Linked DNA regions of Homo sapiens: regions 1, 2 and 4 are each linked to region 3. Evidence: fine-mapped QTL for protein levels in blood plasma. A gene starts in region 3. Each other region holds a variant in brackets. All regions are shown on one strand. Distances are from middle to middle.

Region 1 (6,921 bases), 51 kb after region 3:
GTTCAAACACTATCCCTAATGCCTGCGGCAGAATTTATATACGATCCATTCATTGGGGCTCAAAGTATCTTTTAGACTTTTAAGGACAATTTACAGCAAATGAAATTTATGATGCTGTGACAAGAAATTTAAAGAATCAAAACGATGGTTTGAAAAGGAAACCTATGATACATGCAGGAGAAGCAAAACCCAAGTGATTGGTGAGAAATATAGAAATTATTTAAATTACTTTATAGTAATTATTAAACACTAATTTTTGTACTGTCATTGAAGGTGTTTTATAGAGAAATCTGAGAAATCACATTCACAAATTAGAAGTCAAACATGGCCAGGCACAGTGGCTCACACCTGTAATCTTCAGGATTTCAAGACCAGCCTAGCCAACATGACGAAACCCCATCTCTACTGAAAATAGAAAAAAAAAATTAGCCAGGCTTGCACCTGTAATCCCAGTTACCTGGGAGGCTGAGGCAGGAGAATCTCTTGAGCCCAGGAGGCGGAGGTTGCAGTGAGCTGAGATGCCACCACCACACCAGCCTGGGTGACAGAGTGAAACTCGTATCTCCAAACAAACAAACAAAAAGTCCTTAAACATATGTGAACAAAAATTTTGTGATGGAAGGATTCTAGTTAATGAGTATTGCATCAAGATTTACATCTTTCTTACTAAGGAAAAGAGTTAATAAAAATTGTTCTTTATTTTACAGGCAGTTACTGAGGCTCTTCCCAGATCTCAGTAAACAGCCACTCAGCCTTGAAAATGGAGTGTTGTTGTTTCTAAACATATATTTATGTCATTTATTAAGTACAGTTCACTTAAATAACATAAGTAGATTTTCTCTTGTAGTGATTTGGGTAGGAAGAGGCCATGTTTCAGTTCGTTTTCTCTGTAGGGTCGATTGAATTGGACCTTTTCAGTTGTTCAGAAAAATAAAAATAATTTCTCATATTAAATACAGACGCTCCTCAACTTATGATGTGGGTAGGTCCCAGTAAACCCATTATAATTTGAAAATATCACATTGAAAATGCATTTAATATCTCTTACCTGAAATCATAACTTAGCCAAGCCTACCTTAAATGTTCTCAGAACATTTAGCCTGCAGTTGGGCAAAACCATTTAACACAAAGCCTATTTTATAATGAAGTGTTGAATAGCTCATGTTATTTACTGAATACTGTTGTGAAAGTGAAAAACAATGATTGTATGGGTACTCAAAGTATAATTTCTACTGAATGCATATCACTTGTGCACTGTTGTAAAGCTGAAAAACCGTTAAGCCTCTACGATTTTTAAGTAAGTTGGGGACCATCAGTTTAAAATAAATGCAATACTATTTCATGATAAACATGGTCACTGTAAGTTTTACTCTTTTGAATGAGGGTGCGACAGAATGCAGTTAGAATCAGTTCATATCACCATTAAAATCATCCATTCAGAAACCAAGGCCTTGTCTGCAGAAATTTTTTATTCCTTTTTCTGTTAGCAACCAGCACTCAAACGTTAAATTTGGTAGTTGATGTACTTTGTAACAAATGAGTGTGTGCAAGTAGTGATTAAAAATAAGATTCATTCTCAAGGCACAAATGTCAGAGGGGAAGAGAGTATCTCAAAAAACAAACTAACACAGAGTATGCAAAAAGATTACTGGGAGGCTTTAGAAGTATGCAATTGAATGGCCAGTATTGCATTCTAGGACATTAGACACTTCAACTGTGTCTACTGAAGAAAGAGAACAGTTTTCCAGTTAGTAGCATAGGTTAATAGGAGCTATCACCTGCTGTTGGTTTGAATGTGATGGGCACAGCTGAGGGAAAAGGGACCCCATGCCCCCAATATTGAGTGCCTTCTCCAGATATTGTCACACCGGATCTATTAAACACTTCGAGGTGTTCTTTAGCCCTAAATTAGATGAAACATTCTAGAAAGTGGCAAAATTGATGAATTTCAGATTTTTCTCTAAAGCTTGAGAGCTTTACATATCCTTTATAAGCCTGCTTGTGAAAGATATTGTTTTTAATACATGCTTTAATGTTTTCAGGGCTTGTCATCAGAATATTGATACAATTTTTTTTAATGCAGTAGGACCCAAACTAGAAATGAATTACAACTATTGGGAAAGAAAAAACTATTGTTATTATTGCAGATGATATAATGGTCCAAGTAGAAAGCCTGGGAATCTCATCTTAGAATTAATATGAAATTAGCAAAAACCTCCAGATATCCAAAAGTTAATAGACAAAGGTAGCTTTAAGATATAATTGTAGTATATCACCATTTGTTGTGGCAACAAGCTTTGTCACATTTATAGACAAACTGAGCATGTGTGCAGAAACTATACAAAGATAACAGAAGACCTGTATAGATGGAAAAATACACTGCTCCTAGCTGATAAAATGATTTTTTTGTTTGTTTTTTGTTTTTTGTTTTTTTGAGACAGAGTTTCACTCTTGTTGCCCGGGCTGAAGTGCAATGGCATGATCTCGGCTCACCACAACTTCCGCCTCCTGGGTTCAAGCAATTCTCCTGCCTCAGCCTCCGGAGTAGCTGGGATTACAGACATGTGCCACCATGCCTGGCTAATTTTGTATTTTTAGTAGAAACGGGGTTTCTCCATGTTGGTCAGGCTGGTCTCAACCTCCCGACCTCAGGTGATCCGCCCGCCTTGGCCTCCCAAAGTGCTGGGATTACAGGCGTGAGCCACTGTTCCCAGCCCTAAAATGAAATATTTTAAACATTTCTTCTATTTGTGAATTAACTGAATGCAAGTCTATTAATGTTCTCAATGGCTTGAGAGTATCCTAAATTTCATCTGAAAGATGTGCAAGAATAGGAATATTTTGAAAGGAAAGTCATGAAGTCTTAAGATACTAGATATAAAACCATATTTCACAGCTAAAAAATATTGAAAATGTACTAATAGTTTACATTTGAACCCTTAGACCAAGGCAGTAGTAGCCCCGAAATAGATGTGAGTATAAATAAAATGTTCCAAAAATCCTAGGAACATAAGGAAGGTAAACTTTTGGAGAATACTAGATTATGGCTTTATAATGTACACCAAAATCCAGATGAAAAATATGAAAATAAGCTAGAAGAACATACTAGTGACTATCTTTGGATGGGTGACTGAATTTTCCAAATAAAAGCAATAAGATTCATTAAGGAGCAGATTATATATTTAAAAATATATATCTTCTGAATATGAGAAAGTAAAAGGCAAATGAGATTAGAACATTTGCCTACAGATTTTGGAAGAGGGAGGCTTAATACCTTAATATGGAAATGATTTATGCTAATATTTAAAACCAGTTATATTGAGATAATTCACTTATACAGTTTACCCATTTAAAGTGTATATCTAAGTGGTTTTTATTATAACCATTACCACAATCCATTTTATTTTTATTTGTATTTTAAATATGGAGACAGGTTCTCACTATGTAGCCCAGGCTGGTCTCAAACTCCTGAGCTCAAGCGATTCTCCCACCTCAGCCTCCCAAAGTGCTGGGATTACAAGCATGAGCCACCACGCCTGGCCCATAATCAATTTTAGAACCTCTTCATCACCCCAAGAAGAAACCTTGTACCCTTTATAGTCACTCCCCACAACTCCCTCATACTAACATAGTTGTTTTTTTTTTTTTTTTTTTTGAGACGGAGTCTCGCTCTGTCGCCCAGGCCGGACTGCGGACTGCAGTGGCGCAATCTCGGCTCACTGCAAGCTCCGCCTCCCGGGTTCACGCCATTCTCCTGCCTCAGCCTCCCGAGTAGCTGGGACTACAGGCGCCCGCCACCGCGCCCGGCTAATTTTTTGTATTTTTAGTAGAGACGGGGTTTCACCTTGTTAGCCAGGATGGTCTCGATCTCCTGACCTCATGATCCACCCGCCTCGGCCTCCCAAAGTGCTGGGATTACAGGCGTGAGCCACCGCGCCCGGCCCATAGTTTTTAAACATGAAGACTCCAAGAGAAAAATGAACAAAGGATGTAACAATTCATAGAAGTACAATAAGAAATGGAAATGGCTAATATGAAAAATTATAATTCAATAAAGATGATTCAAATTAAAAGAAAATTTCTGTATCAAATTACCAGTTTTGGTGTTTGGTTTTTTAAAATATCCTTGATACTTGAGAGACCATATTGAGAAATAAGACTACATATAATGTGATCTCATTTATGAAAA[C/G]TATTGAACAGAAAGGAGCATTCAGAATTTCCTGAAGTCACATCTTCATATTTTGAGAATGACTCCTTCCAGCTCCATAAAATTGTTGCCAAATATGTATTTGGAGCTTTTTCCACATATGGTTTGCCTTAGGGAGTCTTATGCTCCCCAGCCCCAGCCTTTATTTAGGGGAGGAAGGAGCCATGATTTCTCTCCTCTCACCTACTGACAGGCATGTTTTAGATGTAACCATTAGTGCTTAGCCGTGTCAAGGTCCTATACTCTGATTAACCTTGTAAGATAGCCCCATTGTATACCCACAGTGAAGAGAACCTTTTGCAGCAGTAGCCTGAATAACCAATCCTATAGGCCACTGGCACTCTCCATCTGACTACAAGAGCTGAGGATGATTAGATTGGCAGCAGTTTTGCCTCTAGCTCCTTGGAACGTATCTATGGGATTTCATTTTCTGATATCCAATACATGTTGATTTAATTGCTTGTTAGGTGAGGGTGGCCTGTTTCCTTGAGCTGCATGCCAGTGGGAAACATATGTTCCCCTTCAGCAGGAGGACTCCAGAAGATTCATACTCTCCAGTAGCCTCCATCCGAACATATGACTGTGGGAGTAACTTGGATGAGCAGTATTGGTGCAGGAGGAGGATCTTGTTTAACTAGATAATTTTGTGCATTTCATATGAAGGTTTATTGACCTTTAAGATATAGAAACCGGTGTTTTTTGTTTTGTTTTGTTTTAATTTCTGCAAAACACGGATACCACTATCACTGGCTTAAACATTATTGGGTATTTATAATTTATTTCCTTTGCCATTAGACTCATTAGTAAACGCTTCCTGGCGCAGTTAGAATTCCCTTAATTGACTTGATGCAAAGAAGATGTGTTTTCTCTTCAGGAAAGCTTTTCGTGCCCCTCCACTCAAAGGAGAATGCCCCTTTAAGTATGTTCCTCAAAGCCCACTGCGCTAATCATGGCAACAGCTGGCATTTGTTGAGCATTTACTTATTGCATGTTCAAAGCACTTTGCATGTATTACCTCCTTTCACTCCATAACAACCTTGGGAATGGGCACTACTTATAAAAAATTGGCCCAATTTACAAAAGAGCAAAGAAAGGCATGAATCCATAATAAACGCTTGAAAAAATGTTTTTCTCTGATCCATTCATCTCTATTTTACCATTTTAACCATCCACCTTCTTCCCCAGAACCTGGCCTGCTGTGAGTGCAGCACATCTCTTTGAGACAGGGTGTCACTCCATTGCCCAGACTGGAGTGCAGTGGCACGATCACGGCTCACTGCAGCCTGGACTTTCTGGGCTCCAGCAATCCTCCCACCTCAGTCTCTAGAGTAGCTCAGACCACAGGCATGCGCCACCATGCTTGGCTAATTTTTGTATTTTTTTTTTTTTTATAGAAATGGGGTTTCGCCATGCTGCCCAGGCTGCTCTCAAACTCATGAGCTCAAGCCATCCACCCGCTTCAGCCTCCCAAAATTCTGGGATTACAGGCGTGAGCCACCACGCCTTGCCTGCATTTCTTGTTTAAAGCAAGATGTGCTGGCTGGGCGCTGTGGCTCACGCCTGTAATCCCAGCACTTTTAGAGGCCAAGGCGGGCAGATCACCAGGTCAAGAGATCGAGACCATCCTGGCCAATGTGGTAAAACTCTATCTCTACTAAAATTACAAAAATCAGCTGGGCATGGTGGCGTGCGCGCCTGTAGTCCCAGCTACTCAGGAGGCTGAGGCAGGAGAATCGCTTGAACCCGGGAGGCAGAGGTTGCAGTGAGCCAAGATTCCATAATGCCTTGAGAAATAAAAGGGATAGAAACAGAATTAATCCACTAGTCTTACTGAAACCACCCAAAGGGTGTGTGGAGAGAAAGAGGAGAGAAAGGAGGAAGAGCAGTAAGCACCAAGTGGATGAGGGCAGGCGGAAGGCAGGCTCAGGGAAAGGGGAGAAGCAGGAGAAGAGCAGGGCTTAGAAGCTATCAGAGGTTCCTTAGCAAATATGAATATACAATGAAGTATTATTATTATTGTCACCATGCTGTACATTAAATCCCCAAAACTTATTCCCTTATAACTGAAAGTTTGTACCGATTGACCCAAATCCCCCATTTTCCCCATCCCCCCCCACGCCCAGCCGCTGGCAACCAACTTTCTACCTTTGTTTCTATGAGTTTGACTTCTTTAGATTCCACATGTAAGTGGGGTCGTGCAATATTTGTCTGTGTCTGGCTTATTTCACTTGACAGAAAGTCTTTTAGGTTCATCCATGTTGTCATAAACAGCAGGATTTTCTTATTTTTCATGGCCAAATAATATTCCATTGTGTACATGCATGTGTGTGTTTGTGTGTCACATTTTCTTTATCCATTTAGCCATCAACACACACTTAGGTTGTTTCCATATCTTGGTTATTGTGAGTAACGCATCAATGAACATGGGAGTGGAGAGCAGATATCCTTTTGACATACTGATTCATTTTCTTCGGTTATATGCCTAGAAGTGGGATCGCTGGATTATGCAGTAGTTCTATTTTTTAGTTATTTGAGGAAGCTCTATACTGTTTTCCATAATGGCTGTACCAATTTACAATCCCACCAACAGTGTTCCCAGTCCTACCACATTCTTGCCAATGCTTGTTATTATTTGACTAATACTAGCTATCCTAACAAGTGTGAGGTGATTTCTCATTGTGGTTTTAAGCTGCATTTTCCTGATATTGAGGTTT
Region 2 (7,890 bases), 40 kb after region 3:
AGGAGAGTTCCGCTCTTGGCTACAGGGTCAGCCAACTTTCTGTCAGGACCCCGGAGCTGAATGGCTTTCCTCTCTGTCAACCCTGGGCTCAGCCTGGAAGTACAGGAAAAGCGGAAGCTGTTTTCAGGCAAACCAACACTCCCAACTCCAAAGAGTTGGGGGTTGTTAGGTAGCCATTTCCCAGAAAACCTGACACCCGTATCTTTAGTCCGGCAGCCGCACTAGTCGCTTTTAACTGGCCGATAGGTGCCCAGTATTTAGCCACCGAATTCTAAGGAAAAATAGGACAGAATAGCAAGCGAAAGGGGTCCGATGGTACTCACTGCTTGGTGATGGTCCAAGGTCACCAAGATGTGTCCAGCATTGGTTCCTTCTGGTGGATTCTTGGTCTCGCTGACCAAGAATAAAGCCGCGGACCTTTGCAGTGAATGTTACAGCTCTTAAAGATGGTGTGTCCAGAGTTTGTTCCTTCAGATGTGTCTGGAGTCTCTTCTTTCCATTGAGTTCATGGTCTCGCTGACTTCATGAGTGAAGCCGCAGACCTTTGCGGTGAGTGTTACACCTCTTAAAGGTGGTGGGGACCCAAAGAGTGAGCAACAGCAAGATTTATTGTGAAGAGCAAAAGAACAGAGCTTCCACAGCATGGAAGGGGACCAGAGCAGGTTGCCGCTGCTGGCTTGGGTGGCCAGCTTTTATTCCCTTATTTGCTCCCGCCTATGTCCTGCTGATTGGTCCATTTTACAGAATGCTGATTGGTCCATTTTACACAGTGCTGATTGGTCCATTTTTACAGAATGCTGATTGGTACATTTACGATCATCTAGCTAGACACAGAGCACTGATTGGTGCATTTACAATCCTCGACCCAGGAAGGCCAGCTGGCTTCACCTCTCAATAAGGCCACTCAAATTCAAGAGGGAGGGAATTTGACTACTTCTTGGTTGGGGAGTGGCAAGGTCATATAGCAGAAGAAAATGTTGGGTGAAAATATTGGCCTGGCTGTCTTCAGAAAATATATTGTGCCTCATTAATATTTTTTTAACATATTTTTAACTTTATATCCTGAGGATGTTAGTGGTAGTTTTCTATATCCTGAGAATGTTAGTGGTAGTTTTCCTCTCCCTGAACAGTCTGTTTCATTTGACTGTTTGGGGGTCTCCCAGTTTAAGCAAGATATTTAAGCCTTATTTCTCTTGGCATGCTTGGATTCCCCAGTAAAAAAAACTCCTGCCCTGGGCTGACAATCAAAGTTCTGGGAACTAATATGGATAAGCAAGCTGGAAATGGAGAAGGCTATTCACTGTGCCTGGGTCCTACTGTTTTCTGGATGGGAACTGCTTTCCATTAGGCCTGGTGTGCCCTGGAAGGGAGAGCCTCTGCAGAGACTACATCTTGGATGGGTCTTTGCCAAGTTTGAGGTAGAAACCCAGCTGCTTTGTAAAGAGCTACTAGTGGATACTTTGAACAAAACAAAAAACAAAGCAACACCACTCCTCCATCATTCTCCGCATCCCCCCTTCAGAGGGATCCGTGCAACCAGCACCAGTTCCTGCACCCTTTGAAGATCCTGCAGTGTAAATAGAGCTGGTCTGTTCTTTCCCGCCTGTCAGCCTGGGATTTGTGCATATGCTTTTTCAGTTTCCTCTCGTCCATCTGCTTTTCCAGTTTGATTTCTGCCTCCTGTCTCCCTCTCCCTGAGGTCATTTTGTCCATCTTCCCACTCCATTAAGCACTCAGCGGCACCCTGTCTATCTGGTGGTGCTGACTCTCTTTATGTTGGAACACTTTTAGTGACCATATCGTCACCTTAGGGGCACCTGATACCTATCTTCTTTTTCCCTTCCTTGACTAGCTTTCCTTCTTATTGACTATATAAAAGATAAGTATTTATTTTCAGTATTCTTAGAATTTAGTATTTTTGTATTTCTTGGTCTTAAAAGTCAAGTACCAAGAACCATTACTTTCAGGTACTGGCTTTCCTCTGTTCCAACTCACGGTGGAATTATTTCATTTCTCATTTCTTCTTAGGTTATGCGATCTACTTAAAATTATATAGGGTAGTGTCCTCAAGGAAGTCTCCTCTTCCAGGAAAGGACCAGTGTCCACTGAGGGACCTTCTTCAGGACATGCCCCAGGTCAGTTGTTGGATTAGGCAGGCCTTGGGCGAGTGAGGCTTAGTATGGTTTGGGACTTGAGTTTTTCTTGCTTTCCCAGAATTCATGAGCTTTTGTCATTTAGAATGTTTCTTACTCTTCTGTAGTTGTCCTCACTGGCAAATCCCACCAGATATTCTTCAGTGAGTATGCTTCCTGAGTGAAATATAAAGGTGAAGGAACATTGGGCAGAGCAGTATTAACTACCCATGGCCACATTTTTGTTAATTATTTTGGTATTTATTCCTTGTGTGGGTGTGTAATTTTTGGTAAAGTTGCATTAAAATAGTATAGCATGTGCGCATTTTTACTTCCCTTTAAACTTCTTTTCTTCTTGGAAATCTCTTTGGCTATGAAATCTCATTTTCCTTTCACCCTTCTGATTCTTAGCCGAGTTTTACTTAAGAAAACGTTGTATGTCTTGAAATTAGGTTGGTTAATTACAATTCCTTCGAATGATTTGACTTCTGTATTCACCCTGATGATAAATAGACAAAATCAAAAGCATTTTTGACAAAGTAATGCTTTCTCACATATTTAGCTTCTTTATAGACACTTACCCATCTTGTTAAAACCCAAAACTAGTGATTTTACGTTGTAAAAAGCGTTTTTCAAAGCATGTGGGCCATGTAGGATGTAGACGACAGTGGTAAAGACCTATGCCTTTTTTGAGGTGAGATCCAAGTGTTTGGTTTTGAACTTTGTATTTTCTATTTGGATTTCGAGGTGACCCTTTCATGTACCCACATTCCATAAAATCCTGTTTAAGATAATTCTACTTCTCCTGTTTAAAACAAAAAAAAACCCAAGACTCAGCGGTGTCACAATTTGTAACTTAAAATCTGTTTACTTTGGTGAACTTTATTGTTACTATTCTAATAATAGCTTTATTGAATATTCACATACCATAATGTTTACCCTTTTAAAGTAAACAATATGTTCACAAAGTTCTACATCAATCTCTACTATCTACCTAGAGAACTTTCAAAGGAAACCTTTGTACCTACCAGCATTCATTGCCATTCCCCCATGTCCCCAGCCCCTGGCAGACACTCATCTACTTTCTGTCTATATGGATTTGCTTTTTCTGGACATTTAATATAAACAGAATTATAAATGACTATTTCTTAGCCTAATGTTTTCTAGATTATTTATCTACATTGTATGGAACTTGTGTGAGACCTTCATATCTTATTATACCCGTATAATATCCCATTTTATGGATATACCATATTTTGTTTATCCATTCTTCAGTTCACGGTCATTTGGCTTGCTTCCACTATTTTAGCTATTAGTAATGCCATTATGAACATTTGTATACAAGTTTTTGCGTGAATATATGTTTTCATTTTTCTTGGGTATATACCTAATAGTGGAATAGCTAGGTCATATGGTAACTCTAGTTTTAATTTTCTGTGGACCCACCAAACATTCTAAAGCAGCTTCACCAAGCATTTACATTTCTACCAGCAATTTATGATGGTTCCAATTTGTCCACTCAATGAGATAAAAAATACACTAGGGCTGGGTGCAGTGGCTCACCCCTGTAATCCCAGCACTTTAGGAGGCCAAGGCAGGCAGATCACCTGAGGTCAGGAGTTCCAGACCAACCAGGCCAACATCATGAAACCCCGTCTCTACTAAAAATATAGAAATTAGCCAGGTGTGGGGGCGGGTGCCTGTAATCCCAGCTACTTGGGAGGCTGAAGCAGGAGAATTGCTTGAACCCGGGAGCCAGAGGTTGCAGTGAACCAAGATCGCAGCACTGCACTCCAGCGTGGGCAACAAGAGCAAAATTCCAGCTCAAAAAAAAAAAAAAAAAGAAAAAAAGTGTATACACACACACTGTCAGCCTGTCAACACAGTTTTATCATCATAAATTAATGTAGCTGTCTTTTAAATCAGATGGGAAGAGAGTTACAAAGAAAATTACATTCATACTATAAATTTGTCTGTATATATATACCTTTACTGCTGCTTTCTATTTTTTCATGTGGATTTGAGTTGCTGTCTAGAATCTTTTCATTTCTGCCTGAATATCTTCATTTAGTATTTCTTGTAGGGTAAGGCTGCTAGTGATAATTTTTTTTTTAATTTATCTGGGAGTATCCTAGTTTCTCATTGTTTTTGAATGATTTTGCTCATTATAGAATTTTTGGTTAACAATCCTTTTTTTTGAGATGGAGTCTTGCTCTATTGCCCAGGCTGAAGTGCAGTGGCATGATCTTGGCTCACTGCAGTTTCCACCACCCAAGTTCAAGCGATTCTCCTGCCTCTGCCTCTCAATTAGCTGGGATTACAGGCATGCACCACTACGCCCGGCTAATTTTTGTATTTTTAGTAGAGATGGGGTTTCACAGTGTTGGCCAGGCTGATCTCAAACTCCTGACCTCAAGTGATCCGCCCACCTCAGCTTCCCAAAGTGCTGGGATTACAGGCATGAGCCACCACACCTAGCCAACAAACTTTCTGCGCGTTGAATATGTCACTCACTGCCTTTTGGTCTCCATTGTTGTTTATTTGAAGTTGTTAATCATTTTCAGGATTTGTTGTATAATCACTTTTCTTTAACATTTTCAAAATCCTTTGTCCTTGTCTTTCAACAGTTTGATTATGAAATGTCTAGGTAAGGATATCTGAGTTTATCCTCTTTGGCGCTCATTGAACTTCTTGGATGTGCAAATTAATTTTTGTTTCAATATTAATAGACTATTTTTAGAGCAGTTTTCTGTTTACAGACAAATTACACAGAAAGTACAGAGAGTTTCCATTTACCCCCTCACTGTTTCTGCTGTTATTAATATCTTACATTAGTGTGGTACATTTTTTACAATTAAGCCAGTATTTATACATTATTATTAATTATTGATACATTATTTTTTTCAACTATTTTTCTACCTCCCCAAACTTGTTATATAAATTATTATTAAGGGTTCATTCTTTGTGTTGTACATTCTATTTCTTTATTGAAATTTTCTCAATTTGGTTAGATACCATACTCGTGCTTTCTTTCAGTTATTTAGTTCTTTGAACATATTTATAAGAGCTGATTTCAAGTATTTATTAAATCCAATGCCTGGGCTTCCTTGGGGACATTTTTATTGACTGCTTTTTTTTGTTCCACCCCCCTGTATGTGGACCAGACTTTTGTGTTTCTTTGCATGCCTTGTAATTTTTTTTTTGTTGAAACTGGATAGTTTATAATGTGTCAACCATGGAAATCAGATCTCTACCCCTACCCTGAGGAGGGTTTGTTGTTTTTGTTATTTGTTTAGTGGCTTTCCTGGACCAGTTGTCTAAAGTTTATATTCTTTGTTATTTGAGACCCACTCAAGTTTCTCTCAGTTAGTTAGTGGTCTGCTAATGATTCCATAGAGATTTCCTTATGTGCCTTGAACCAGTAAGGGGCAGGAATTACTTAAAGGCATACTTTTTGTAGTGTTTTGATATTTTAGTGGTTGAAATTCTTATGTTTTGTTACCGAAGCTCCCCGTGGTCGCTTTCTGATAGAGGTGTGGAGTGGGGTGGTGATCAAGATTGTTAGAAGAAAATGAGATGAGCAACAAATTCAGCTTCAGGATTGTCATTAATTTGCCAGTGAGCATTGGGAATCTTCACAGTGGGGGAAAGGATATGTTGGATTTTCTAATCATACTGGACTGTTAAACTGTTCCTTGGTATACATTAAGGGAAATGCTGCTAGAGTTTTCTTTCAAAGAACTTAACCTAAATTTCAGGGTGTTTTCAAATCTTTAGCAATCCACAAACATAGAATTAGAAAAATAAGTAAGACTAGAGAGAAGGAAATTTTAAAAGAGAAAAGTTAACCACCCATAATTTTGAG[A/G]AAAAAAAGCAAATATGTAGGATTAGTTCACCAACATATTTTCTGAGTGTGTGAATACTATGTGTCCATATATCCCTTGTCACATTGTTTTTTAATTTCACAGATTTCTTTAAAGACTCGTGCAGCACATCATTATCGCTGGATGCCCGGACATGTAATACACCTGACAGCATGTGAAGTGCTCAGAATGGGGCAGGATGTCACCTGGAATCAGCACTAAGTGATTCAGACTTTCCTTACTTTTAAATGGTAAAAAGTCTAAATACTTTTCTTAACATTATTTTATATTAATGATGGTCAGTTATTCATTTTTATTTGTATTATTACTATTCACAACTCATTTCCTAATGAAATAGTTAAGTTTCTGGCATTAAAAACTCGTGTCAAATCTCTAGAAATCTTGTTATGAACAGATTTATAACGGTCAAATTGGTAGTACTTGACTTTCTTTTTTTAGAACAGCAGCGCTTATCAGCTGTAGAACCAATTGCCAAGTTATAAAATTGATTTTTGAAAACAAAGCTATTTAATGTTTGTAAGCATTTCATATAGTAAAAGTGGGTTGTGTTCCTGGAATTTGAATATAGATGAAGGTCTGTCATAAATTACAATTTGTATACACTATTGTTTTCTGCAAGACTTAGTTATTACAGTCTGTTATAACTAATGCAGAAAACGCAAGCTGTATCTCTCTTTTGGATTATGAATACTTTGTTTTCTTGTAGTTTCTGGCATGGAACTAAACTCATTGTGGGACTAACCCAACACAGTCCCAAACGGGGCTTTGTTTCATCTGAGCCTTTTCAATCCAATTTGAAAATTCTGTTGACTTGCCCTTCCTTCAAAGATTCTTAGAAGTCACAACCATTTCCAAACTTCTCCCTAAGTATGCCCCAAATCCTAAATCAGCAAAAAGCAGAATGGATCTGATCTCTTTTAGGGCTGCTGACACCAGCTAATGGACATTAAAACATGTCAGGAGGAACTTAAATTACTAACGATTTCAAGAACAAGGGGTGGTAATTCTGGCACAGTGTCAGAAACTCATCAACTATAGACTGTTCAATCATTATTGCCTAGGCGTCCAACTATGGTTTTGCACCTCAACATACCAAAGAGGTAAAATGCTTGTTGTTAGATATTCTAGTGCATCCATGTACTGGGATTTGGGGTTTGTTTTTTCTTTTGTTTTCTTTTTCAATCTGTGGTATAAATACTAGAGACTGTGGGCTTCCTGTACTACTACAATTTATCCTCTGATTCAGCCACTTTGTTTTTGTTTTAAACCTAACCTCATAGCAAAGAGGACAGTTTTTTGAGCCTGAGAAGATTTATTGTGAAAAACTCTCTCTCTCTCTCTCTCTCTGTATATATATATATATATATATATATTTATTTATATTTATAATTGCTTCTTTTATTTCAGTGCTGCTCTTCATTTCAAGATGCCGTTGCAGCTCTGATAAATGCAAACTGACAACCTTCAAGGCCACGACGGAGGGAAAATCATTGGTGCTTGGAGCATAGAAGACTGCCCTTCACAAAGGAAATCCCTGATTATTGTTTGAAATGCTGAGGACGTTGCTGCGAAGGAGACTTTTTTCTTATCCCACCAAATACTACTTTATGGTTCTTGTTTTATCCCTAATCACCTTCTCCGTTTTAAGGATTCATCAAAAGCCTGAATTTGTAAGTGTCAGACACTTGGAGCTTGCTGGGGAGAATCCTAGTAGTGATATTAATTGCACCAAAGTTTTACAGGGTGATGTAAATGAAATCCAAAAGGTAAAGCTTGAGATCCTAACAGTGAAATTTAAAAAGCGCCCTCGGTGGACACCTGACGACTATATAAACATGACCAGTGACTGTTCTTCTTTCATCAAGAGACGCAAA
Region 3 (8,182 bases):
TTTCTTTTTTTTTTTTTTTTTTTTTTGTTAGACAGAGTCTCACTCTGTCGCCAGGCTGGAGTGCAGTGGCATGATCTCAGCTCACTGCAACCTCCGCCTCCCGGGTTCAAGCGACTCTCCTGCCTCAGCCTCCTGAGTAGCTGGGATTACAGGCGTGCACCACCACGCCTGGATAATTTTTGTATTTTTAGTAGAGACAGAGTTTCACCATGTTGGTCAGGCTGGTCTCGAACTCCTAACCTTGTGATTCGCCCGCCTCAGCCTCCCAGAGTGCTGAGATTACAGGCGTGAGCCACCGCACCCAGCCTTTAAACCTCTTTTCTTTATAAATCATCCAGTCTCAGAAATGTCTTTATAGCAATGTGAAAGCAGACTAATACAGGACATTAAGGGGCTTATTCCAAATTCCAATGCTGGTTTAGGCTGAGACTAGATTAAAGGGCAAAGACCTGATGGAAGGAGAAAAGCCTCATTGAAGTTTGATCAAGTAAGGTATTTGCCCAGATTGATCAGTAGGGGCAAATGGTTCAGCTAACCATTTATAAGATGAGAATGGAAATTTGGAGCGCATGTCTATGGCCTTGTTGTAAGTGTGAAAGGATGTTATCCATGATGATTACCTAAGTCATTTGGGGAAAGGTGGTTCTATGTAGTTAGTGGTTTCTCAGAAAATACAGCCGGGAGAGGATGTTCACTGGTCTCCAGTAACACAAAGTATAGGTCAAGCAACACCATCCCCTTACTTTTTTTTTAATTTATTCTTATTTATTTATCTATTTTTGAGATGGAATCTTGCTCTGTCACCCAGGCTGGAGTGCAGTGGCATGATCTTGGCTCACTGGAACCTCCGCCTCCCAGATTCAACCGATTCTCGTGCCTCAGCCTCCCCAGTAGCTAGGATTACAGGCATGTGCCACCGCACCCAGCTAATTTTTATATTTTTAGTAGAGACGGGGTTTCGCCATGTTGGCTAGGCTGGAACTCGAACTCCTTACCTCAAGTGATCTGCCCACCTCGGCCTCCCGAAGTGCTGGGATTACAGGCATAAGCCACCATGCCCTGCCTCTGTCCCGTTATTTGATTGTACTTGTAACTATAGTTTTATTATGACATTTTAAGAATATATTGCTATTGTATTAATCATTACTATGACAGCTGTGTTTATCAGACACTTTCCCACATCTATAATATTAGGAGAGTTGGGTGTTTGTGATCATGAGTTTGCTCCTTGTGCTGGTTATTGAAGTATGTCTTAGAGTTCAAACTCAAGCTTCTATCTTCTGCTTTGTGAGCCAGGGCTGGGACTTAGCAAATCACATTTCCTATAAGGTTTTGCTTATAAGGGGTGCTTGAGGAGAGGGACTTGCTACTTTATAGCTGCTTACTGTTCCTGTCCATGTTACCAAGCAATGGCTCTTCTCCCTGGCTGCAGCAACAGCTGGTTCCAGTTTCTTAGATTTGTTTGTTTGTTTTAATCCACCCTCTCCCATCCAGCCTCAATATTTACCTTCAGAGATAAAAGCACCAGCTGGGTACCGCCCCCTCCTTTGAGGTCTGACTCCCAGCCAACCAGGGGCCCTCTCCTGGCTGTTAGGTTCTGATAACCCCAACACTTCCCCTCTCCCCAGCTCTGTGCATGGCAGCTGCTTCCTGCAGTTACTCTCTCTCTGTTACTACAATGTTTTTGCCTTGCCAATCTTCATGACCTTAAATTCTCTGTAAAAGTAATTGCTGTGATTTCTGTTTTCTGACTGGGCCCTGACTGATACACCCCTAAGCATTCCAGAAATACCTTCTAAACTACTTGTATAGATTTATGGGTGTATGTTATTGCAGGCATTAAAAATAAGTGGGCTGGGCAAGGTGGCTCACACCTGTAATCCCAGCATTATGGGAGACTGAGGTGGGTGGATCGCTTGAGCGTGGGAGTTCAAACCCAGCCTGGGCAACATGGTGAAACCCTATCTCTACAAAAAATACCAAAAAATTACCGGGCATGGTGGCACACACCTGTAGTCCCAGCTACTTGGGAGGTTGAGGTGAGAGAATCACCTGAGCAGGGGTAAGTTGAGGCTGCAGTGAGCTGTGATTGCGCCACTGTGCTCCAGCCTGAGTAACAGAGTGAGACCCTGTCACATACACAAACAAAATGGATTACACTTATGGTATACAGGCAGTATCCAACTGACAAACAAGATATATTCCAAAAGTTAATTCATAAATCTATTGCTTGGCCACCACCCCTGGTTAATTTATCTATTTTTATTTTGTAGAGGTGAGGTCTGGCTATGCTGCCCAGGCTGATCTCAAACTCCCAGGCTCAAGTGATACTTGTACCTCGGCTTCCTAAAGTGTTGGAATTACAAGCGTGAGCCATTGCAAACAGCCAGCTATATTTTATTTTTAATTAATTAATTTATTTATTTTTGAGATGGAGCCTTGCTTTGTCACGCAGGCCAGAGTGCAGTGGCACGATCTCAGCTCACTGCAACCTCCACCTCCCGGGTTCAAGCGATTCTCATGCCTCAGCCTCCTGAGTAGCTGGGACTGCAGGCACACGCCACCGCAGCTGGCTAATTTTTGTATTTTTAGTAGAGACGGGGTTTTGGTATGTTGGCCAGGCTGGACTCAAACTCCTGACTTCAGGTGATCCACCCACCTCGGCCTCCCAAAGTGCTGGAATTACAGGCATGAGCCACTGTGCCCAGCCCCGGCTATACTTTAAACTTATGTTTAGCAATTAACATGTCAGTATTTTAACTTACAAATGACTCAGACATTTAATGAATATCTATTACTTAATTTAATATGTTCGAAATTTCAAGTCACCAAAAAAGATTTTTAAAACTATTTTTAAGTAGACAAATTTTATAAAACAAATTATTTTTAAAAGTTTATAAACTTTTATTCCATTTACATTTACCTAATCTACTTGCTCTTAACAATTATGCTTGAATTGCTCATGAAAAATTTCATGAGATATTAAACAAAGCTAGCCATTGAAGGAGTTCAGGAGTTTTTCCCAAAATCATTTCCTCTCCCCTAAATTGTCCCTCCCCAATGAAGAGGATACACAAGCTCCTAAAATCTCAGTTTTTGTTGGGGGAGGCAGAGGGAATATTAGTTTTTCTTTTCTGTGATACCCCCTACACGAAATCTGTGTACTTTTTCTCTTGTTAATCTACCTGCAGTCAATTTATTTCATAGACTTAGTTATCCAAGCCTCAGAGAGTAGAGGGGAAGTCTTTCTTCCTCTATACCATCATCTTATGTTAATTTTTGTTGACAAATCAGGCAAGTGTCAAACATATCACAGTCTAATGGCCTCTGAGTTGGATTTTTTTTTTTTTTTTTTTTTTTTTGAGATGGAGTCTCGCTCTGTTGCCCAGGCTGGAGTGCAGTGACACGATCTCGGCTCACTGCAAGCTCCGCCTCCCGGGTTCACGCCATTCTCCTGACTCAGCCTCCCGAGTAGCTGGGACTACAGGCGCCCGCCACCACGCCTGGCTAATTTTTTGTATATTTAGTAGAGACGCGGTTTCACCATGTTAGCCAGGATGGTCTCGATCTCCTGACCTGGTGATCCGCCCGCCTCGGCCTCCCAAAGTGCTGGGATTACAGGCGTGAGCCACCGCGCCCGGCCAGAATTTTTTTTAAACAACATGGAAACAAATAAGACCTCGTTCTGTTTTCTAGGAGCTAAAAATCCAACGAAAGAAGACACAGACACAATATTCCCCTTGTTACAAAGAGAACTGTGTCAACTTTTATAACTGACACAAAGATCTGTGCTATAAGGGCGGGGAAGGTTTTTTCCTACTTTCCACAGCACTGTGGATTGTTCCACAGTTTAATTTGATCTTAATTTTTATGTGGAAATACACATGAATGTAATGAGTTCTTAAATGCTAAATTTAGGAAGCAAGGTTCGTTAGGGGAGAGAAAAAAACACCTACATGGTTATCTCTAAACTTTACATATCGAGAACCTTGGAATTTAATTTTATTGTTGTTCTGTAACATATTTTCATGTTTAAAATCAGAAAAGGCAGCATTTCTCGAGTTTCCTGCTTTCGAGGAAGGGAGGCATAAAATGTTTAAAAAGACGCCGCTCACACACCTCTTAAGAATCAGAGCACAGTGAGGAAGAGGAGCGAGGAAGCACTAGGATCGCAGCGCTACTCCCAGACCACGTCAGTGCCCAGAGGGCGCCCTCGCCTGTAGGCGGGAACCGCGAGTCCGCAGCAAGTCCCCAGCCCCGAGCTCGCGCAGGTGGGCGAGGCGGGGACGTGGTGGGCGGGGCCTAGAAAGGCGGGGCCTCTGGGGGCGGCCCCGGGGCGGGCCACGCTGGTGTGAGGGCTGCAGGCGCAGCTCCGGAGCGCCTAGAGCGCGGCGCGGGGCGGGAGCTTGGTGGAGCAGGAGCGGCTGGGCATCCTCCTGAGACTCCGGGGTCAGACGCCCACTCCAGGTAACCGGCTCTCCCTCGTGTTCCCCTGCTCGGCCGCCCGGCGGTGGGGGAAGGCTGAGAAGGATGGGTGGGAGGGAGCCGGCTCTCAGCCAGTGCCCCGTGGCCCCGGGCGGGCTGGGCTCCCCCGCGGAGGAGGAAGCAGAACCGGGGTGCGCCCGGGACCGGAATGGAGCGGCGCCTCTTCCTTCCACCTTCATTTTCCGTCCGCTCAGTGGGGCTGGGACGCCGGTGCCCCGTGTCCCCTGAAAGTCACTTTCTGGCCTCTTGCCCCTGGTCCGTGTAGCTTAGATGTCGGAGGGGTTGGCTGCGGGCGTGGATAGGCAGGGAACGAACAGACTCGCTGCCATCCCATGGGTGCCAGGGGCTTAACTTCATTTAACTTCATTGAATCCTAACGCCAGCCCGGCTAAGATGCATTTTCACCCCTACTTTACTGATAAAGAGGCCAACGCTAGGATAATAAATGACTCACCCTGGAGCAAACTATTACTAATAAGAAAAGAGACGTTAGTTTAGGGGCTCCGAAGCCTCTCCTTTCCTGCTCCCTCGCTTTCCTTCTTCTCGCGGCAGTCTAGGAAACTCGCGCGCAGGGTCTATTACGAAAACAAGTGATTCGTCTTAAAAGCATTTTACCCCCTCCTAGGTTTCTCTTTCCTCTTTTTTTTAAGTATCTCAGGCAGATTCCTCCAAGTTTTGGTTATTAGGTTTTTGAAATGGAAGAAGCCCTTGCTCACTGCTTCTTTTCTCCTGGCAGCGCTTTCTGCGCAGCACAGGCACCCTCGCCTGTCACGCCTCCCTCTCCTCTTCCCGTCTCCCAGCGTGGATGAGGGCGCCTGCAGATCCCGGCTAGGGCACGGACCGCCTAGGCCGAGGTAGGTTCTGTAGGCACCTGGCATGCTGTAGATGCATATAAACGTTGCCCTGTACACCCTTTGCCTTGTTATTTCTTTCTGCAGAAAAGAGAGTCGGTTTTTTACACATAATGGGGCAAGAGGCCAATTGGGAAGATATATGGTGTTCAAAGAAAGCCGTGGTGCCTTGAGATGAGAATGCGGCCACAGCTTTTTGTGGGCTGAATTTGATGGGTGGGAGGTGAGAGACGTGGTCTGGAAGTTGTCTCTTCGTCTGGCATTCTGCCCCCCTTCCAGAGCTGTTCTGAAAGGCCGGTTTGTTTTATAGAGGGGAGGAGGAGGGCTTAGTAGTTTTTAAAGATCAGTGTAAATTACCTGCTAGGAGCTTAGGCAATTCCAGGCAGGCCCCCCTGCTGGAGGCTTTCGTAACAGATTTCAGTTCTAGCAGGGAGGAAAACTCAGACTGTGTAGATACCTGCTTTTTCTTAAAGGAATTTTTTTCGGGCCCTTAAAATGGTAGTTTTGGGAAACTGATTTCTTAGAAATGGCAAACTCCTTTATTTTAAAATACAATATACCAAACTATGAATTTACTTTTAAAAAGTTTTATTGGCCGAGAGGTTGATATTTTTTCCATTTCATGATGAGGGTTTGACGGTCACTGCCACCTCCTCTGCCCGTCCTTCAACTTGGCCCTGTAAAGGATCTCCTTAGCCTTGGCCCCAAGTTTGTACTAGATTCTATCCTTCATTAATTATAGTTCATTCTTGATTAATGATAGCAATGCTTCCACTCACTTTTTAAGGAGTTACTCCTTTTCCGTTTGTAATTGAATTGCTTAACAGTAAGAAAAACGTTTTTCCCTAAAACTGGGATCACAAAATCCACTTTATCCACATGGACTAAACAGGTAATGCACAAGAGTGCTTGGTTGGGCCCAGGTGACTGCAGAGGAACCTGCTAAGGCTGGGTGGATATTGGCCATTTCCACCGAGTATCCATGCAGGAATTCCCATTCAGCCATACAGTGTAGGCAGCTTTTTTTTTTTTTTTTTTTTTCCACGAATAGCTGAGAACTTTTACTTAAAAATAAAAAATGTAAAGCCTGATTTTAAATATTGGCTCATATTTTTTCCTTTTTAGAACACAAAGAGGGCCGGGCGCAGTGGCTCACACCTGTAATCCCGGCACTTTGGGAGGCCCAGGCGGGTGGATCACGAGGTCAGGAGTTCAAGACCAGCCTGGCCAAGATGGTGTCTCTACTAAAAATTCAAAAATTAGCTGGGCGTGGTGGCTAGGCGCCTGTAATCCCAGCTACTCGGGAGGCTGAGACGGAGAATTGCTTGAACCCGGGAGGCGGAGGTTGCAGTGAGCCGAGATTGCACCACTGCACTCCAGCCTGGGTGACAGAGCGAGAGTCTGTCTCAAAAAAAAAAACACACACAAAGAGCCTGGGCATGGTGGCTCACACCTGTAATCCCAACATTTTGGGAGGCTGAGGCAGGTGGATCACTTGAGGTCAGGAGTTCAAGACCAGCCTGACCAACATGGCAAAACCCCATCTCTACAAAAATATTCAAAAATTAGCCAGGTGTGGTGGTGGGCACCTGTAATCCTAGCTACTCAGGAGGCTGAGGCAGGATAATTGCTTGAACCCGGGAGGCGGAGGTTAGGATGAGCAGGGATCGTGCCACTGCACTCAAGCCTGGACGACAGAGTGAAGCTCCGTCTCAAAACAAAAATCCCACAAAGAATAAAATCAAATTTGTTTCATGCATCATCTGTTTGCAAAACTCTGCCTTAAAAACTGCTACTGTACACGGTGATTATATTCTCCGATGAATGGAAAATTCTGAACTGTGATGTAGATATTGTACATTTTTCATGAAATGAAGTGGTAGAAAACAGAAATTACTACTGGAAATGATCCCTTCTGACTGTCAAATTCTGTTTTCTATGAAGTGTGTGGTATTTCAGCTATACTGTATTTTTTTTTTTTTTATAGAGCCAACCAAGGACTCTTGTCACTATTTTTATTTATTCTAATGAGAAATGTATTCATGGTTCCAGGTCAGTATGTCAAATGTCTAACTCCCTGTCTTAAAAAGGGAGTTCCCAAATGACTGTTCATATAACCATATGTGTTTCTTGTGGAGACTGTCTGTATTCTTGGCTTTGTCACTGGATTTGTGGCTTAGTGCTGTCACGTTTCCTATCTGAGGCAAATGCCATATATGTTTAGACCAGCCTTTCTCAATTGTGGCACTTTTGCCATTTTTGGCCAGTTAAATTCTGTTGTGGGGGCTGTCCTGTGCATTGCAGGATGTTTAGCAGCATCTCTGGCCTCTACCTACTAAATGCCAGTGCACCCTCCCTGCAGTTAAATGACCCCAAATGTCTCCAGACATAGGCAAATGTTCCCCGGAGAACAAAGTCATCTTTGGTTGAGGAACAAAATGAACCTATATTTAAGATGGTCTAAATGTTTCTGAGATGGTCTAAACATTTATAAGCTTAACAATTAACTTGAAACTCTTCAGGACTAGAGAAGCTATTTGTAAATTTAAACATCTGACGCCTTGAAACACCTTTATCATAAAGATAACTAAACCAGTGTTCTTTGTGAATGGCCAATGTGTCCTGCCAGTTTCTTTTTTTTTCTTTTTCCTATTCTGAGAAGCATGCCCTGCCAGTTTCTATCTCCAAAGAAATTTCAAGCGTTCAGTGTATTTGTTAAATTTCATAAAGTTTAAAAAGTTGAAAATGAAAAAGGAATTCTACGGTAGTTTTAAGTAGAATTTAGTTTTAAGAAAAATTAACCTCTTTTTAGCTAACAGCAATAAAACGAAGACTGCTGTGTATTT
Region 4 (8,182 bases), 70 kb after region 3:
AGACGGAGACCAGAAGACTCAGCAAGTCTCCTCTTCCATCTTCTCCTGCCTGCTTTATTGTAGCCACACTGGCAGCTGATTAGATGGTGCCCACCCAGACTGAGGGTGGGTCTGCCTCTCCCAGTCCACTGACTCAAATGTGAATCACCTTTGCCATCACCCTCACAGACATACCCGGGAACAATACCTTGCACCCTTCAATCCAATCAAGTTGACACTCAGTATTAACCATCACACCTATCTGAAAGAAATAATTTTGTTAATTCTGTAAATAATTTTTTAAAAATTCTGTTGATAGTTCAAGTCCAAAAAAATTGATTAAAAAAAATTCTTCAGGGTTAAGTGGCTACTCTATTCGCAGTAGCCCTTCCTCTAAGGTTTTTCTTTCTAGTCTCCTTTCCCCCTCACTCAGCTCTTAATTCCTGCCAATAACTGAGAGTGAAGAGACAGTCACCTTGCTTCCGGGTCTCTCAGTCCTCTACTGGCCTTTGGCTCCAGATGTTTCCTTAGCACTTGCATAGTACCCAGAGTATTTTAAGTGGTGACTGATCTGCAGGTGCAGATCTCACTTGGCCCCCATAGCATTGGGACCCATGCAGATTCCATTGTGTTACAGTGACTGTAACTTATTTTAAAAGATCTCAGCATATACATCGTGATATTTTGTATCTGTTATTTGTTTATTTAGAGACAGGGTTTCATTATGTTGGCCAGGCTGGTCTTGAACTCCTGACCTCGGGTGATCCACCTACCTCGGCCTCCCAAAGTGCTGGGATTACAGGTGTGAGCCACCACGCCTGGCCAATATCTGTTACTTAGATGAAGCCAAAACCTTCAGATAATTTATAATGCATAGTTAAGGCATGATCAGTTCACATTAAATCAGAAAAGGTTCCATCCCAGAGATGGCTTCATCAAACTAACACTTTGCTATTAAACATACTGAATGTCTGAAAAGGGATTTCACTGGAGAAACTAGTAACTTTTGTCAAGAAGCAGTTATTTAGCATGATTCTTAGAAATGAGCTCTCATTTGTGATGCTAAAGGTATTCAAAATATGAGGACTGGCTAAAAATACCTTAAAGAGACTCCTAACTCTTGTATGGGTGGGGGTGTAACAATTAAGGAAGACCTAAAATCTAGCTTGCTCCCTGAGTTGTCCTATAAGCAGCTGTTGGTATAGGAGGATTTCTGAATGATGCCAGTTGGAAGAGAGAGACTCCTGCTTCTGAAGTGCTGTTGTGTGCTGCTTGTAAGCATTTCATGCAATGTGTGATTGGATCACCTAAAAGAGTACAGAGCTAGAATTTCATTACACCAACAGGACAGTACCAACTCCTTAGTGGTGACTAATGAATGTTTGCATAGTAAACACCTATGTGGGTGACAGGATTTGGGCTAAGATTTCTTTCCTGTAACCTGATTGTGAGATTATGAAAGCACAGCTAAATCTCACTCCCTCAAATTTCTTTAGTGTCTACTATCTTCTAACAGAAACAATCTAAGGGTTGAGCACGACCAAACTGACTTGAATCAATTCACTGTGTTCTTACACAATTTCCTGTAAGGACAGACACCCTTCATTCCTTTGAGGCACATCCTTTTATCCTTGTCTAGGATCCCTGGTGAGGTCTTCTGACTCTTTCATGCACCACTCAAGACCAATATAATCTTCTCTCATGCTACTTCTGAGCCATGAGGAACCTGGAAGGAGGGCATCTCTGTCCTTTTCGTGGGACAAAAAAGTGAATGTAGGAAATCATATCAGCTAATATCACATATCATCCTTCCATACCTGTAACACATATACAGGAGTTAAACACAATAGCAAGAAAGAAATTCCTTCAATTAGGCTGGGTGCGGGGGCTCATGCCTATAATCCCAGCACTCTGGGATCCAAGGCAGGTGGATCACCTGAAGTCAGGAGTTTTGAGACCAGCCTGGCCATCATAGCAAAACCCCATCTCTACTAAAAATACAGAAATTAGCTACGTGTGGTGGCAGGTGCATGTAATCCCAGCTACTCCGGAGGCTGAGGCAAGAGAATCGCTTGAACCTGGGAGGCAAAGGTTGCAGTGAGCCAAGAGCGTACCAGTGCACTCCAACCTGGGTGACAGAGCAAGGCTCCGTCTCAAAAAAAAAAAAAAAAAAAAATCCTTCAATCAAATTCCCCAGTTCTTACACAGATACCTCACAATAGTGGTGTTATTGATATTTTTGGGTAAGAGGAAAATCTTTCTTTTGCCCAACTATCCCTACCTTGCAAGACTTTTAGCATTCTTTGACCTTGCCCACTAAAAGACAACAGTTTAAATAAAATTTTTAAAAGATCATTAGATATTTTGAAATGCCTCCAAATGGAAAAAAATTGGCCTGCTTAAGAACTGCTGTACTAATGGTCTCCCAACTGTTTCACAGGTCTCAGGGAAGGCCACAGAAGGCTTCAGTGGCTGAATAGAAAAGTAGGTGGTTGAGGGGTCAGCCTCCTATCCTTGCCTCAGAACACAGAACATGCCTCAGGGCAAAGTGACTGACTTCGCAGGCTGTGATGATAGCTGTTATATTCTTTTCGAGAGAGGGGATTTCACTGTCACCCAGGCTTAAGTGTAGTGGTGGGAATCATAGCTCACTACAGCCTCGACCTCCCAGGCTCAAGCGATCCTCCTACCTCAGCCTCCCAAGTACCTGGGACCACCACATGTGGCTAAGTTTTTAATTTTTATTTTCGTAGACATGAGGTCTCGCTAAGCTGCCCAGGTAACTCCTGGGCTCAAGTGATTCTCCCACTTTTGCCTCCCTAAGTGCTGGGATTACAAGCATGAGCCACTATACTGGGCCCCCCATTATATTCTTCATAAGTAAAAGCATATCCAGAAATTTTCATTTCCAGTTGATCTTTACGCTGCTTTCTTGACCATTTCTCTGAAGGTGCCTGGAGCAAAAATGTGTCCAGAATTGGTGGGTTGTTGGTCTCGCTGACCTCAAGAACGGAGCCGTGGACCCTCGCGGTAAGTGTTGTGTCCCGAGTTTGTTCCTTCTGATGTTCAGATGTGTCCAGAGTTTCTTCCTTCTGGGGGGTTGCTGGTCTTGCTGACTTCAGGAGTGAAGCTGCAGACCTTCGCAGTGAGTGGGCGGCGCATCTGGAGTTGTTCGTTCCTTCCAGTGGGTTCGTGGTCTCACTGGCCTCAGGAGTGAAACTGCAGACCTTTGCTGTGAGTGTTACAGTTCATAAAGGTGGCACGTCCAGAGTTGTTCGTTCCTCCCATCTGGAATTGTTCATTCCTCCCATCTGGAATTGTTCATTCCTCCCATCTGGAATTGTTCATTCCTCCCATCTGGAATTGTTCATCCCTCCCCGTGGGTTCATGGTCTCCCTGGCTGGCTTCAGGAGTGAAGCTGCAGACCTTCGCACTGAGTGTTACAGCTCATTGTTACAGCTCATAAAGGCAGCGTGGACCCAAAGGGTGAGCAGCAACAACATTTACTTCTAAGAGGCAAAGAACAAAGCCTTGGCAGAGTAGAAGGGGACACAGTTAACCAAGTAGCCACTGCTGCCTCAGGTGGCGTGGCTTTTATTCCCTTATCTGGCCCCACCCACATCCTATTGATTGGTCCATTTTACAGAGAGCTGATTGGTCCATTTTACAGAGAGCTGATTGGTCCGTTTTACAGAGAGTTGATTGGTCTGTCTTGACAGAGTGCTGATTGGTGTGTTTACAAACCTTTAGTTAGACACAGAGTGCTGATTGGTGCGTTTACAATCCTTTAGCCAGAGGGAAAAGTTCTCCAGGTCTCCACCCAACCCAAAAGCCCAGCTGGCTTCACCTCTCAATGGCACTGGCCGCCAGGACTTTTGGGCACCTACCCCGGGCATTCCGGCAACCCAGAGGGAGCTCGTACCTGGATCAAGCCCAGCAGGCGC[C/T]GAGTGTGGGACCCGCTCCCAGCCCGCGCCCACCTGGAACCCGTGCTGGCCCACTAGCGCCACAGCCCCAGCTGCCGCCCTCGCCTCTGCCTCCACACCTCCCTGTGAGCAGAGGGAGCCGGCTCCCGCCTCGGCCAGCCCCAGAGAGGGGCCCCCACAGCACAGCTGCGGGCTGAAGGGCTCCTGGAGTGTGGCCAGAGCAGATGCTGAGGCCAAGGAGGCACCGGGAGTGAGCAAGGGCTGCTAGCACGTTGTCACCTCTCAAAACCACTTGAGCTTTACCATCCAACATAATATCCTTTCGTTATCTCCTCACTATAGTTCTAGAACTATCATTTGCACATTTTATGTTAGATATGATGGATCAAAATTGTTTACCAGAACTTAAATGGTAAAAAGAGGCCATATTAATTACATACTGCATTGACAATATTGATGATGCTTTGTTTCAGATATACTATATATCGATGTTAACTGCTTTTGAAATATTTGAAAATTAGCCAGGTGGGATGGCTCACATCTGTAATCCCAATACTTTGGGAAGCCAAGATGGCAGGATCGCTTGAGCGCAGGAGTTGGAGACCAACCTGGGCAACACAGTGACACCCTGTCTCTATATTTAAAAAAAAAATTGAAAATTGATACTTGTTTTTGAAATACTTGGCTTTATACATGTGTGTATAATAAAAAACAAGTATCTGCTTTGTGTAGGGCAGCACCAAAGTGGTATGTGTACATTTTCCTGGAAGAACGGAACATTGGAGGAAAAAGTGTTTGGATGCCGTGGGACAAGAGACAGGATTGAATGGGAGAGTGGAAGATAGGATGTTGTCTGTTCCTCAGCCCAGGCTCAGAGACCAGTAATTCACTGGAGTTACTATTTACATGAAGGACTTTGGGAGGCTCCAGGTACAAGCACAGATGTTTCAGGACTTCAGTGAAACATATTACCCTGATTTATAGACGGAGAAGCTTCCCCCTTCCTGGGTGCCTGCAGCACAGCTTTTAACACTGGGTTGGGATGGAAGGTTCTCCAGTGCTGTGTGGGCACCATGAGGAACTGAAAGTTTGGAAACAGCACCTAGATAAAAAGGCTGAAGTAGACACCAGCTAAAGTAATACTAACGAGGCATCTCCTAACAGGGCTTCTTGGCAGTGGAAAGGAGCAGCACAGAAAAATCTGACTGGGGCTGGGCGCGGTGGCTAACGCCTGTAATCCCAGCAGTTTGGGAGTCCAATGTGGGCGGATCACCTGAGATCAGGAGTTCGAGACCAGTCTAACCAACATGGTGAAACCCCATCTCTACTAAAATACAATTAAAAAAAAAAAATCAGCCGGTCGTGGTGGCACGCACCTGTAGTCCCAGTTACTCGGGAGGCTGAGGCAGGGAAATCACTTGAACCTGGGAGGCAGAGGCTGCAGTGAGCCAAGATTGCGCCACTGCACTCCAGCCTGGCAACAGAGCAAGACTCCGTCTCAAAAAAACAAACAACAGCAACAAAAAAACAAGAATTAGCTGAGCAGGGCGGCGTGTGCCTGTGGTCCCAGCTACTAGGGGGACTGAGGCAGGAGGATCTCTTGATCCCAGGAGGTGGAGCTTGCAGTGAGCCGAGATGGACCTACTGCACTCCAGCCTGGGTGACAGAGTGAGACTCCCATCTCAAAAAAAAAAAAAAAAAATCTGATTGGCCTTGGTACTGAGCACTTGGAAGGGGTCTCTAGTTATGGCTGGGGAAGCTTTAAAAGGTGGGCTGAGATCCTGTAGTCTGTAGAGGGGGCCCACTCAGCTAGGGAAATGTGGATGCTATCAATGTTAACGTCACTGAAGACATTTCATTAACCACAGGGCTGTATTTTTTTAGGCATTTGAACCAACCTATTTAGTAACTGCCAGGGCCACATGAGGACTTTCTTAGGCCCCAACCACGTTGCCTCTGTGGGCTCCTTCCTTCTTAAGAAAAAACAATAAAAATTGTATTTCACAACTGCATTAGTGTAAATATAAATATAATCCAGGCTGGGTCCATTATAATATATTCATTTTTTTCTTCTGATTTTAACGGAAATAAAAATGAAACCACTTTCTGTAGGCCTCTGAAAGTATTGTCGGTCGCAGGCACTCTGCCTGCTGTGACTAATGGAGACATTGTCCCTAGTAACTGCTTTCCTTTCGTTTTTTTTCCAGCAGCTTCTTCCCTCTTCCCTCACTTATGGCCCCTCCTGACAATTTTGTTGATTTCTATCCAAATCAGCCCTTTCACTAAGATTGAAAAGTTGCTTGTAAATTGGCCATGTTTAATCATTTGCCAGATATTTCAATTTTTAAAAAAACATTGTTATTAAATTGTTGATTTCTCAAATGGATTTGCTATTTTGAGAAAAAATATACTAACTATATACTCAAAATTGATTTTTTATAAAAGCAGGAAGCTACAGTTTTCTATGGGTACATGGACCCTAAAAACCTTCTGTTGTTTTTCCTAAATCCCAAACCCAGATTTTTTGTGTGGGTTCTAGAATCAGGGAGAGCAGTTCTGTGGGCTCTACTATTCAGAAAACACCACGGTCAACTGAGTCAACATAATCAGCCTTCCTGCCAACCACCCTTCAGCAACCACTCAACTATTTACTCCTTGATGGGAGGGCACTGCCAGAAAGTTTGCTCTCAGATTAAAAGCAAAACAAAATAAAAACAGCGATGTTTTCAGAAAAGAACTATTTCATTAGGTTTCTCTATTTGTCCTCTCCTCTGTCCACATTGCTAACATACTGGAAAGAGGTTGCTGGACTGGTTTGGTTTCTTAGGTGAGAGGAACATTAACTGGCCCCCAATTCTCAACCAGGCTGTTCGCTTTTCTGGCTTTAAAAGAAAATCAAGGGTGGGTACAGTGGCTCACCCTGTAATGCCAGCACTTTGAGAGACCAAAGCAGGAGGGTCACTTGAGCCCAGGAGTTCAAGACCAGCCTTGGCAACATGGTGAAACCTTGTCTCCAAGTCCTGAGTTCAGGCAATCCCGTCACCTCAGCCTCCCAAAGTGCTAGGATTATAGGCATGAGCCACCATGCCTGGCCTTCTTCAAAAACTTTAGAAATTAGCCAGGCATGGTGGCCTGTAGTCCCAGCTACTTGGGAGGTTGAGGTAGGAGGATTGCTTGATCCCAGGAGTATGAGACCGCAGTGAGTCGTGATTGTGCCACTGCACTCCATCCTGGGTAACAGAGTGAGACTTTGTCTCAACAACAAGAGAAAAGAAAGTTGACCAGGTGCGGTGGCTCACTCCTGTAATCCCAGCACTTTGGGAGGCTGAGGCAGGAGAATCATTTGAGCCCAGGAGTTTGAGACCAGTCTGGACAACATGGTAAAAACCCATTTCTACAAAAAATTTAAAAATTAGCTGGGCATGGTGGCCTGTAGTCCCTGCTACTGGGAGGCTGAGGCGGTAGGATTATTTGAGCCCAGGAATTCAAGACCACAGTGAGCCATAATCTCACCACTGTATTCATTCCAGCCTGGTCTCACAGAGTGAGACCCTATCACCAAAAAAGTTCCGGTACTTTGGGAGGCGGAGGCTAGAGGATCGCTTGAGCTCAGTAGTTTGAGACCAGCCTGGGCAAAATGGCGAAACTCTCTCTACAAAAAAAAAAATAAAATTTTTTCAAAAAAGAAAACCCTAAGTAGAAGAATATTCTCACAATCAGCTGGAAATATCAAGTATGATTCTGAAAGAAACAAATAACTGACATAAGATATAAGGTGCTATATGAGCATTTTCTTTTCTTGTTTTAAGATACGGTCCTCAGTAGCATATATGAACATTTTGATTTGAGTATGTATGAGTCTCCCAAGAACTTTTAAATTCTTCAACATCCCTTTTCTAGGGTAAAAGTGTTACTGAAGGACAGAGTGGCAGTCAATGCAGCCAAAGCAAAGGGCCTCCCCATTTAGTCCTAACTTATCTGTTCAGTGGCATCTCTCTCCTTTTTTTTTTTTTTTTTGTTGAGATGGAGTCTCATTCTGCCACCCAGGCTGAAGTGCCATGGTGATATCTCAGCTCACTGCAACCTCCGCCTCCCCAGTTCAAGCGATTCTCTTGCCTCAGACTCCCAACTAGCTGGGACTACAGGCATGTGCCACCACACCCAGCTAATGTTTGTATTTTCAGTAGAGATGGGGTTTTGCTATGTTGGCTAGGCTGGTCTCAAACTCCTGACCTCAAGTGATTCACCTGCTTCAACCTCCCAAAGTACTGGGATTACAG

Direction of the effects. Alleles are on the strand shown, and positions count from the first base shown. The strength of an association depends on the size of the effect and on how common the allele is. Not every link is listed here.
With allele A in place of G in region 2, the plasma level of the protein whose gene starts at base 4,344 in region 3 is higher (strong association).

Evidence for each region. PIP is the posterior inclusion probability: the model's chance that the variant is causal. Protein levels are from antibody-based Olink assays in UK Biobank. Linkage for the fine-mapping came from a reference panel and not from the study's own genotypes, which makes the PIPs less certain.
Region 1: its variant is fine-mapped to the plasma level of the GCNT1 protein (UK Biobank, PIP above 0.99).
Region 2: its variant is fine-mapped to the plasma level of the GCNT1 protein (UK Biobank, PIP above 0.99).
Region 4: its variant is fine-mapped to the plasma level of the GCNT1 protein (UK Biobank, PIP above 0.99).

What each region holds. Positions count from the first base shown.
Region 1 is chr9:76,505,970-76,512,890 of GRCh38, forward strand. GCNT1 (glucosaminyl (N-acetyl) transferase 1) reads left to right here. Exons shown (of 4, transcript NM_001490.5): 4 at 1-1,447. Among named protein-coding and RNA genes, the nearest start is that of GCNT1, 50 kb to the left of the region's middle. RefSeq lists an enhancer at 5,181-5,681. The variant C/G (reference allele first, on the strand shown) is at 4,190.
Region 2 is chr9:76,494,816-76,502,705 of GRCh38, forward strand. GCNT1 (glucosaminyl (N-acetyl) transferase 1) reads left to right here. Exons shown (of 4, transcript NM_001490.5): 3 at 6,101-6,246; 4 at 7,424-7,890. The coding sequence starts at 7,567. Among named protein-coding and RNA genes, the nearest start is that of GCNT1, 40 kb to the left of the region's middle. The variant A/G (reference allele first, on the strand shown) is at 5,998.
Region 3 is chr9:76,454,839-76,463,020 of GRCh38, forward strand. GCNT1 (glucosaminyl (N-acetyl) transferase 1) reads left to right here and starts at 4,344. Exons shown (of 4, transcript NM_001490.5): 1 at 4,344-4,467; 2 at 5,222-5,339. RefSeq lists silencers at 4,129-4,668, 5,659-5,728 and an enhancer at 5,279-5,388.
Region 4 is chr9:76,524,887-76,533,068 of GRCh38, forward strand. No RefSeq gene overlaps it. Among named protein-coding and RNA genes, the nearest start is that of GCNT1, 70 kb to the left of the region's middle. The variant C/T (reference allele first, on the strand shown) is at 3,924.